Linked DNA regions of Homo sapiens: region 1 is linked to region 2. Evidence: fine-mapped expression QTL. A gene starts in region 2. The other region holds a variant in brackets. All regions are shown on one strand. Distances are from middle to middle. Region 1 overlaps KANK2 (KN motif and ankyrin repeat domains 2). Region 2 holds the start of KANK2 (KN motif and ankyrin repeat domains 2).

Region 1 (4,000 bases), 28 kb before region 2:
GTTGCCTAGGCTGGAGTGCAATGGCATGATCTCAGCTCACTGCAACCTCTGCCTCCTGGGTTCAAGTGATTCTCCTGCCTCAGCCTCCTTAGTAGCTGGGATTACAGGCAGGCGCCACCACGCCCGGCTAATTTTGCGTTTTTAGTAGAGATGGGGTTTCTCCATGTTGGTCAGTCTGGTCTCAAACTCCTGACCTCAGGTGATCCGCCCATCTTGGCCTCCCAAAGTGTTGAGATTACAGGCGTGAGCCACCGTGCCCGGCCTAGATTTTTTTTTGCTTAAAGACAGGGTCTTGCTCTGTTGCCAGGCTGGAGTATAGTGGTCCAATCATAGCTCACAGTAGCCTTGACTATCTGGGCTCAAGCAATCCTCCTGCCTTAGCCTCCCGAGTAGCTGGGACTATAGGCATGCACCACCAGGCCCAGCTAATTTTTTTTTTTTTTTGAGGCGGAATCTCACTCTGTCACCCAGGCTGGAGTGCAGTGGCGCGATCTCAGCTCACTGCAACCTCTGCCTCCCAGGTTCAAGCAATTCTCATGCCTCAGCCTCCCGAGTATCTGGGATTACAGGTGCCCACCACCACACCCAGCTAATTTTTGTATTTTTAGTAGAGACAGGGCTTCACCATGTTGGCCAGGCTGGTCTCGAACTCCTGACCTCAGGTGATCTGCCCGCCATGGCATCCCAAAGTGCTGGGATTACAGGCGTGAACCAGTGAGTCTGGCCTGAATGCTCCTTAAACACGTCAGACACACCCCTGCCTCAGGGCCTTTGCACTGCTTGTTCCTGCTGCCCGGAAGACCATGTGATTCACTCCCTAACTTCTCCAGGTGTTGACTCAAATGTCATCTCTTCTCTGAGGGACTCCAATAGCTTCCCCATCACTCGCCATCCCACGTCCTTGTTTTTTTTTTTTTTTTTTTTTCTTTGAGACAGAGTTTTGCTCTTGTTGCCCAATGTCATGATCTCTGGCTCACTGCAACCTCCACCTCCTGGGTTCAAGTGATTCTCCCGCCTAAGCCTCCAGAATAGCTGAGATTAAAGGCATGCGCCACCACACCCGGCTAATATTTTGTTTTTTTAGTACAGATGGAGTTTCACCATGTTGGCCAGCCTGGTCTTGAACCCCTTATCTCAAATCATCCGCCCACCTTGGCCTCCCAAAGTGCTGGGATTACAGGCATGAGCCACCACGCCTGGCCTCTTTCTTTTTTTTTTTCCCAGACAAGGCGGCACTCTGTCACCATGTAGTGATGCAACCATGGCTCACTGCAGCCTCAAATTCCTGGGTTCAGGTGATCCTCCTGCCTCAGCCTCCCGAGTAGCTGGGAGTACAGGCATGCACCTGTATTTTTGGGGGAGACAGGATCTCCCTATGTTGCCCAGGCTGGTCTCGAACTCTTGGGTTCAAGCAATCCTTCCATCTCGGCCCCACAAGGTGCTGGGATTACAGACGTGAGCCACCGCGCCCAGCCTGATTGTGTCTCTTACCAGAATGCTCACTCCATAAGGGTGGATACTGTTTTCTGTTTTGATCAGTGCTGTGACCACTGGGGACTACCTAGAACTGGGCCTAACATGCAGCAGGCGCTCAATAAATATTTTTCAAATGAGTGAATGGTGACTAAGACACGCATTTGGAACCAGACAGACCCAGGCGTGAATACTGTTATGCCAACCATGACCATGCAGCCTCTCTGTGACTAATTTCCTCACTGGGGCACTATGAAGGTTCAGCAAGCAGCTGACCATATTCTGACTTTATCCTTAGCGTGAACCCCATGCACAATCAGCTCTTCATAAACATCCGTCTCCTCTGGCCAGGCACAGTGGCTGACCCCTGTAATCCCAGCGCTTTCAGAGGCAGAAGAGGAAGCATGGCTTAAGCTCAGGTATTCAAGACCAGCCTGGGCAACATAGTGAGACCCAGTCTCTACAAAAGATGTTAAAAAATGTCCGGGTGCAGTGGCTCACGCCTGTAATCCCAGCACTTTGGGAGGCAGAGGCGGGCAGATCACTTGAGCTCAGGAGTTCAAGACCAGCCTGGCCAACACAGTGAAATCCCATCTCTACTAAAAATACAAAAATTAGCCGGGCATGGTGGTGTGCACCTGTAATCCCAGCTACTTTGGAGACTGAGGCAGGAGAATTGCTCGAACCTGGGAGATACAGGTTACAGTGAGCCAAGATTGTGCCACTGTACTCCAGCCTGGGTGATAGAACAAGACTTTGTCTCAAAAAACAAAACAAAAAAAACTCAGCCAGGTGTGGTGACGTGCGCCTGTAGTCCCAACTACTCAGGAGGCTGAGGTGAAAGGATCACTTGAGCCCAGGAAGTGGAGTTTGCAGTGAGCTTTAATTGTGCCACTGCACTCCAGCCTTGGTGACAGAGTAAGACCCAGTCT[G/C]AAAACAAAAACAAGACCAGGCATGGTGGCTCATACCTGTAATCCCAGCACTTTGGGAGGCTAAGGCAGGTGGATCACGAGGTCAGGAGTTTGAGACCAGCCTGACCATCATGGTGAAACCCCGTCTCTACTAAAAATACAAAAATTAGCCGGGTGTGGTGGTGCACACCTGTTATCCCAGCTACTCAGGAGGCTGAGGCAGCAGAATGGCTTGAAGCCGGGAGGCGGAGGTTGCAATGAGCCCAGATCGTGCCACCGCACTCCACCCTGGGCGACAGAGTGAGACTCTGCCTCAAAAACAAAAACAACAAATCTCTGTCCTTTCAGAGACCCACCCATCCCGTGCCTACCCGGCCGGATTGAGACTCACCGAGCACTTGATGTTCATGCGGGAATACAGCATGGACGCAATCTCACTCTGCCCTGCGTCCAAGGCCACCATCAGAGCTGTGCTCCCATCCTGCAAAGTATCCGGTGCTATGAATGACGTCCCCATGCTGTGCTCCCGCCCTCCCCGGGGTGCACCTGGTTGGAGACTCACGCGATCTGTGAGTGAGATGTCACAGCTGGGCACGGCCAGCAGCAGCCCCGCGATCTCCTTGTGGCCGTGCTCACAGGCGCACATGAGGGCCGTGGAGCCGTCATCATCTTGCACGTTGACATCTGCCTCACAGGCCAGCAGGGCTTTGACAACGTCCACCCGCCCGTGGCTGACGGCCAGCATCAGGGCCGTCTGTCCTGCCTGGGGAGGGCAAGGAACAGGATTATGGTTCATGCAGGCCCCAGGGCAGGACACCCCCTGGTCTAGAACCTGCTGTAGCTCCCACATACTCTGATGGTGAAATGTACCCTCAACTTGCTGATCTCCTCCTGAATCTCAAACAACCCTCCCGTCACCAGGGGAGTAATAAATCCACAGAGACAGAAAGCGGATGAGTGGTTGCCAGAGGCTGGGAGAAGCGGGGGCGGAGGAAATGATGGATACAGGTTTCCTTTGGGGGTGAAGAGAACGTTCTGGAACTAGACGGAGGTGTTGGTTGCACAACAGGGTGAATGTATTTCATGCCAGTAGTGCTTTTGGTTTTGTTTTGCTTTATTTTAGAGACAGGGTCTTGCTCTGTTGCCCAGGTTGGCGTGCAGTGGCACGATCGCAGCTCACTGCAGCCTCAACCTCCCCAGGCTCAGGTGATCCTCCCACCTCAGCCTCCCGAGTAGCTGAGACTACAGGCATGCGCCACAATGCCTGGCTAATTTTTGTATCTTTTGTATAGATAGGGTTTTGCCATGTTGCCCAGGCTAATTGTTCCTTTAAAAGGGTTAATTATTTTTTTTTGGAGATGGCGTCTCGCTCTGTCACCAGGCTGGAGTGCAGTGGCGCAATCTCGGCTCACTGCAACCTCCACCTCCTGGGTCCAAGCAACTCTCCTGCCTCAGCCTCCTGAGTAGCTGAGATTACAGGCGTGTGCCACTACGCCCAGCTAATTTTTGTATTTTTAGTAGAGACAGAGTTTCACCATGTTGGCCAGGATGGTCTCAATCTCTTCACCTCGTGATCCGCCCGCCTAGGTTTACAGGCGTGAGCCATCGTGCCCAGC
Region 2 (4,285 bases):
CAAAGCATGGCGAAGGGGACCCCCAGTGACCCCAAAGCTGAGAGCTGGGTCAGGCCTGGACTGGGTCGGGGGGAAGGGGTAGGGAAAGTTGGGGAGGCAGCTAGGAGTGAAGCCTTTCCCCTTTATGGAAACAATTTTCTCTAAAAATAAACAGTTTCACTGCCGGGCTACACAGAACTTCCTGCCCGCCTAGGATGCGTCCGGGCCCAGGGGCGCAGTAGGGATAGAGGGCCGGGTGGAGGCCCAGGAAGTCCTGGGGGTGGAGGGGAGGAAGTAAGAGGGGGCGCCTGGAGGCTGCAAAAGGGAGGGACAGTCAGAGCCTCTCACTAAACCCCCCTCAGCCTTGGAGGCCGGCCAGGGCTCTTTTGTCCCCAATATAACCCATCTGAACTTGGCTGGTCCTTTCTGTTATCTGACCTCCAGCCATCATGCTGCAGAGGCCCCAGCCCATCCCACCATCAGAGTAAATCCTTTCTGGCCTTTGAGTGCTGGGGCCGGCAGGTACCTTGGGAGGATGGGCCAGGTAGGGCACCTGCTGGGCATGAAGGCAGGGCTGGGGCTCCAGGGGCACCTGAGCTTGTCCTTGTTCTCCCGTCCTGTCTTGCTTTGTCTCTCTCCAAGTCTCTCTGTGTCTCTCCACGTCTCTCTGTGTCTCTCCACGTCTCTGTCTCTCTGCGTCTCTCTCCACGTCTCTGTCCTTCTGCGTCTCTCTCCGTGTCTCTCTCCCTGTCTTTCCACGTCTCTGTCTTCGCTTCTCTGTCTTTCAACACCTGGAACACATGGTCACCAATTGCAGGAAATTCCGTTTTCCATTTGCCTGGAGGCTCACCCCTGAGCAACAGAAAGTTGATTGAAAATATTTTCTGGCCACCAAAGAGAGATGGAGAAGCAGGGAGCAAGCGGGATTGGAGCAGGATTGGAATAGCCGAGCGGGGTGGGCTGGGGGTGGGGGAAGTGAGGGTGCTGCTGGGTAAATAGTATAGTAACAGTAATACTAACATCAACTCTTTTTTTTTTTTTTTTCTGAGACGGAGTTTTGCTCTTGTCGCCCAGGCTGGAGTGCAATGGCGCGATCTCAGCTCACGGCAACCTCTGCCTCCCAGGTTCAAGCGATTCTCCTGCCTCAGCCTCCTGAGTAGCTGGGATTACAGGCACCTGCCACCACGCCTAGCTAATTCTGTATTTTTAGTAGAGATGGTGTTTCTCCATGTTGGTCAGGCTGGTCTCGAACTCCTGACCTCAGGTGATCCGCCCGCCTTGGCCTCCCAAAGTGCTGGGATTACAGGCATGAGCCACTGCACCCAGCCTAACATCAACTCTTTTAATTGTCATGACAATTCTATGAGATGGGCACTTATCGCCCCGTTTCACAGACAGGGGATGCAGAGGGTACAGAAAGGTACAGTGGCTTCCTCGGGGTCACTGGGGCCATGGGGAAGTGGCTGGGCCTGAACATGAACCTAAGCCTGGTGGATCCCCCCACTGCCCACCAAGCCACCACCCTCAGACTCCACATCAGATATCTCTACCCGTTTCCCAGATACGGAGACTGAGGTCTGAGGGTACTCAGTCATCTCACCGCCCTCGATGAGGACCAGCACGTCCCGAGTAAGGGGAAGAGAAAGGAGACGAGGGGGTGTGGTGGGGGAGATGGATGTCTGTGGCTGAGACCCTTCTCTCGCCATGGGACCCCTGGGGAATGGGGAAGGGGTGACAGGATAAGACAGAGATGGAGAGACTGGAGCCTATAAGAGGGGACAGGTAGGGAGCGCAGGGAAGGGGCGCGGGTCTCCCCAACCCACCACCCAAGACCGGCCTGCACATCGCGGAGGTCGGTGGTGGTGGTGGGGGGGGGTCTTCCCGCCCCAAACTCGGGGTGGGGGGAGGCGAGAAGGACCCCGCCCCGTGCAGAGAGGGGGCGGGGCCTGTGGGATCCCGGGCTAATGGCAAACAGCTGCCGCTCCCCACGCCGGCCCAGCCGCCAAGCCCAGGCCCAGCCCGGCCGGACGCCCGGCCGCCTTCCCGCCGTCTGGGGCATGGCCGCGGAGGAGGGCGAGGGGGGACAGTGCGGGGAGAGGGCAGAGCCGGGGAGGAACAGAGGCAGAAAGTGGGACAGAGACAGGGGAGAGCGGGCAGAGGGGAGCCAAGACAGGAGAAACGGGCAGGGCACGAGGAATCGATGGGGGGTACTGGGAGGAATCGATGGGGGTATGGGGTCAAAGACGAGGAGGGGGCAGGGACGCGGGGACAGACACTCCAAGTCTGGAAAGTTTGGGCACAGAAGGTGGAGTTGGAGGCAGCGGCTCGTTGAGACCAGCGAGGTCGTGTCCCAGGGTTGGAGGCGGGGGGTAGGGTAGTAGGTGTGTGTGGAGGGGGTGCACACTCGATCCCCGAACCAGACTTGAACCCCTACCCAGCCCCGGGTCCCACTCGCCTTGCGCGCTCCGGCCGCTGCCTTCCCTGGGTCCCGCCGCCCGAGCGTCTTCGCGCGCGCCGCAGCCTGGGCGCCCGGCCCTCGGAGGTGGCTCCGCCCGCACCACGCCCCCTCCGGCTGGTCCCGCCCCCCCAGCCGGCACCGCCCCCTCCAGCCGCCCGGGCGCCCCGGCCGCGGTGGGGGGTGGGGATGGAGAGACGCTGGTTGGAGACTGGATCTCACCTGGACAGCAGGTGTGTGTGCGCGCCGGGGTGTCCGGCCTCGTCCTTCCTTCCTCCCTAAGTCCCCGAGGCAGGGTCCTCCCACTGCCGGCCTCCCCCCCACCGCCTGCTGTCCCTGGGCCGCTGCGGGGGGCGGAACGGCTCGGCGGCGGGAGGGGGTGGAGCTGGCCGGGGCCCAGCTCGGGGAGGGCGCGCGGGGCGGGCGCGGCAGCGGGAGGTCACCCCTCCCCCAGGCGGCCCAGGGCTGGAAGCGGCCCAGCGCAGTCCTGGCACACGGTGGCGTGACCGCCGCGCGAGAAGGGAGGCTGCAGAGTCCTGGGCGCCGGCGCCAGCCAGACCTGCATTCCCATCCCAGACCCACCAAACTTTTGCTGCTCTGTGCCTCAGTTTATTCATCTGTAAAATGGAGATGATCATGTTAGCTACCTGATAGGAGCGTTGAGAAGATTCACTGACCATTAGGAAGGGGCCTAACCATCAGGAAGGAGGCCCTTCGGGTTAAAAACTCTCATAAATGGAGTGGCCTACTTTTGCAGAGATCTTTCTGGGAGCCCTTTTAGTACACAGCCAGCCACTCAGCAAGGGCTTAATAAATATTATTAAGCCGGCGAGGTGGCTCACACCTGTAATCTCAGTGCTTAGGGAGGCCAAGGCAAGAGGACTGCTTGAACTCAGGAGTTCGAGACCAGCCTGGGCAACATAGCAAGACCCTGTCTATGCAAAAAAATTTTTAAGTGAAAAAAAATTAGGCCAGGCGCAGTGGCTCATGCCTGTAATCGTAGCACTTTGGGAGGCCAAGGTGGGCGGATTATTTGAGCCAAGGAGTTGGAGACCAGCTTTGGCAATATGGTAAGACGCCATCTCTACAAAAAACAAAATACAAAAAACCACCTGGGGCCGAGAAATGGCTCATGCCTGTAATCCCAGCACTTTGGGAGTCCGAGGTGGGTGGATCATCTGAGGTCAGGAGTTCAAGACCAGCCTGGCCAACATGGTGAAACCCCTTCTCTACTAAAAATACAAAAACTATCCTGGCATGGTGGTGCACATCTGTAATCCCAGCTACTCGGGAGGCTGAGGTATGAGAATAACTTGAATCTGGGAGGTGGAGGTTGCCGTGAGCCGAGATTGCACCACTGCACTGCAGCCTGGGTGACAGAGTGAAACTCTGTCTAAAAAAAAAAAAAAGAAAAAGAAAAAAAAGCCAGGCACAGTGGCATGTGCCTATAATCTCTGCTACTCAGGAGGCTTGAGCCCCGGAGTTTGAGGCTGCAGTGAGCTATGACTGTGACACTGCATTCCAGCCTGGGGGACTGAGTGAGAGCGTCTGTTAAAAACAAACAAACAAAAACCAGGTATTGTTATTGCAGGTAAGCATGTGACATTATTTGTGTGTTGCCTTCCCTACTAGAACATCAGCTCCACAAGGGCAGGAATTTTTGCCTGTTGTCACCACGATGTCCCTGGCACCCAGTATGTTCTTGGTGTCCCCATTGATGATGCAGGGATGTGTGGATATGGGGCAGTGGACTGTGAGCATGTGATGAGCATGTGACCCAGCCCCTAGTGACCGCACCACATGGCACAGGTTGCTTATAAAAACCATTTTAAATTAAAAAAGGGAGGAAGC

The links. PIP is the estimated chance that this variant, and not a neighbour inherited with it, causes the effect. A credible set is the group of variants that fine-mapping cannot tell apart.
Region 1: its variant is the best candidate, but not a certain one, in a credible set for the expression of KANK2 in gastroesophageal junction (GTEx, PIP 0.87).

Annotation. Positions count from the first base shown.
Region 1 is chr19:11,167,102-11,171,101 of GRCh38, forward strand. KANK2 (KN motif and ankyrin repeat domains 2) reads right to left here. Exons shown (of 13, transcript NM_001136191.3): 11 at 2,947-3,147; 12 at 2,776-2,865. Among named protein-coding and RNA genes, the nearest start is that of SPC24, 13 kb to the left of the region's middle. The variant G/C (reference allele first, on the strand shown) is at 2,406.
Region 2 is chr19:11,195,051-11,199,335 of GRCh38, forward strand. It overlaps KANK2 (KN motif and ankyrin repeat domains 2), which reads right to left and starts at 2,495. Exons shown (of 13, transcript NM_001136191.3): 1 at 2,435-2,495; 2 at 572-770. DOCK6 (dedicator of cytokinesis 6) reads right to left here. Exons shown (of 48, transcript NM_020812.4): 48 at 4,245-4,285. RefSeq lists a silencer at 2,359-2,978.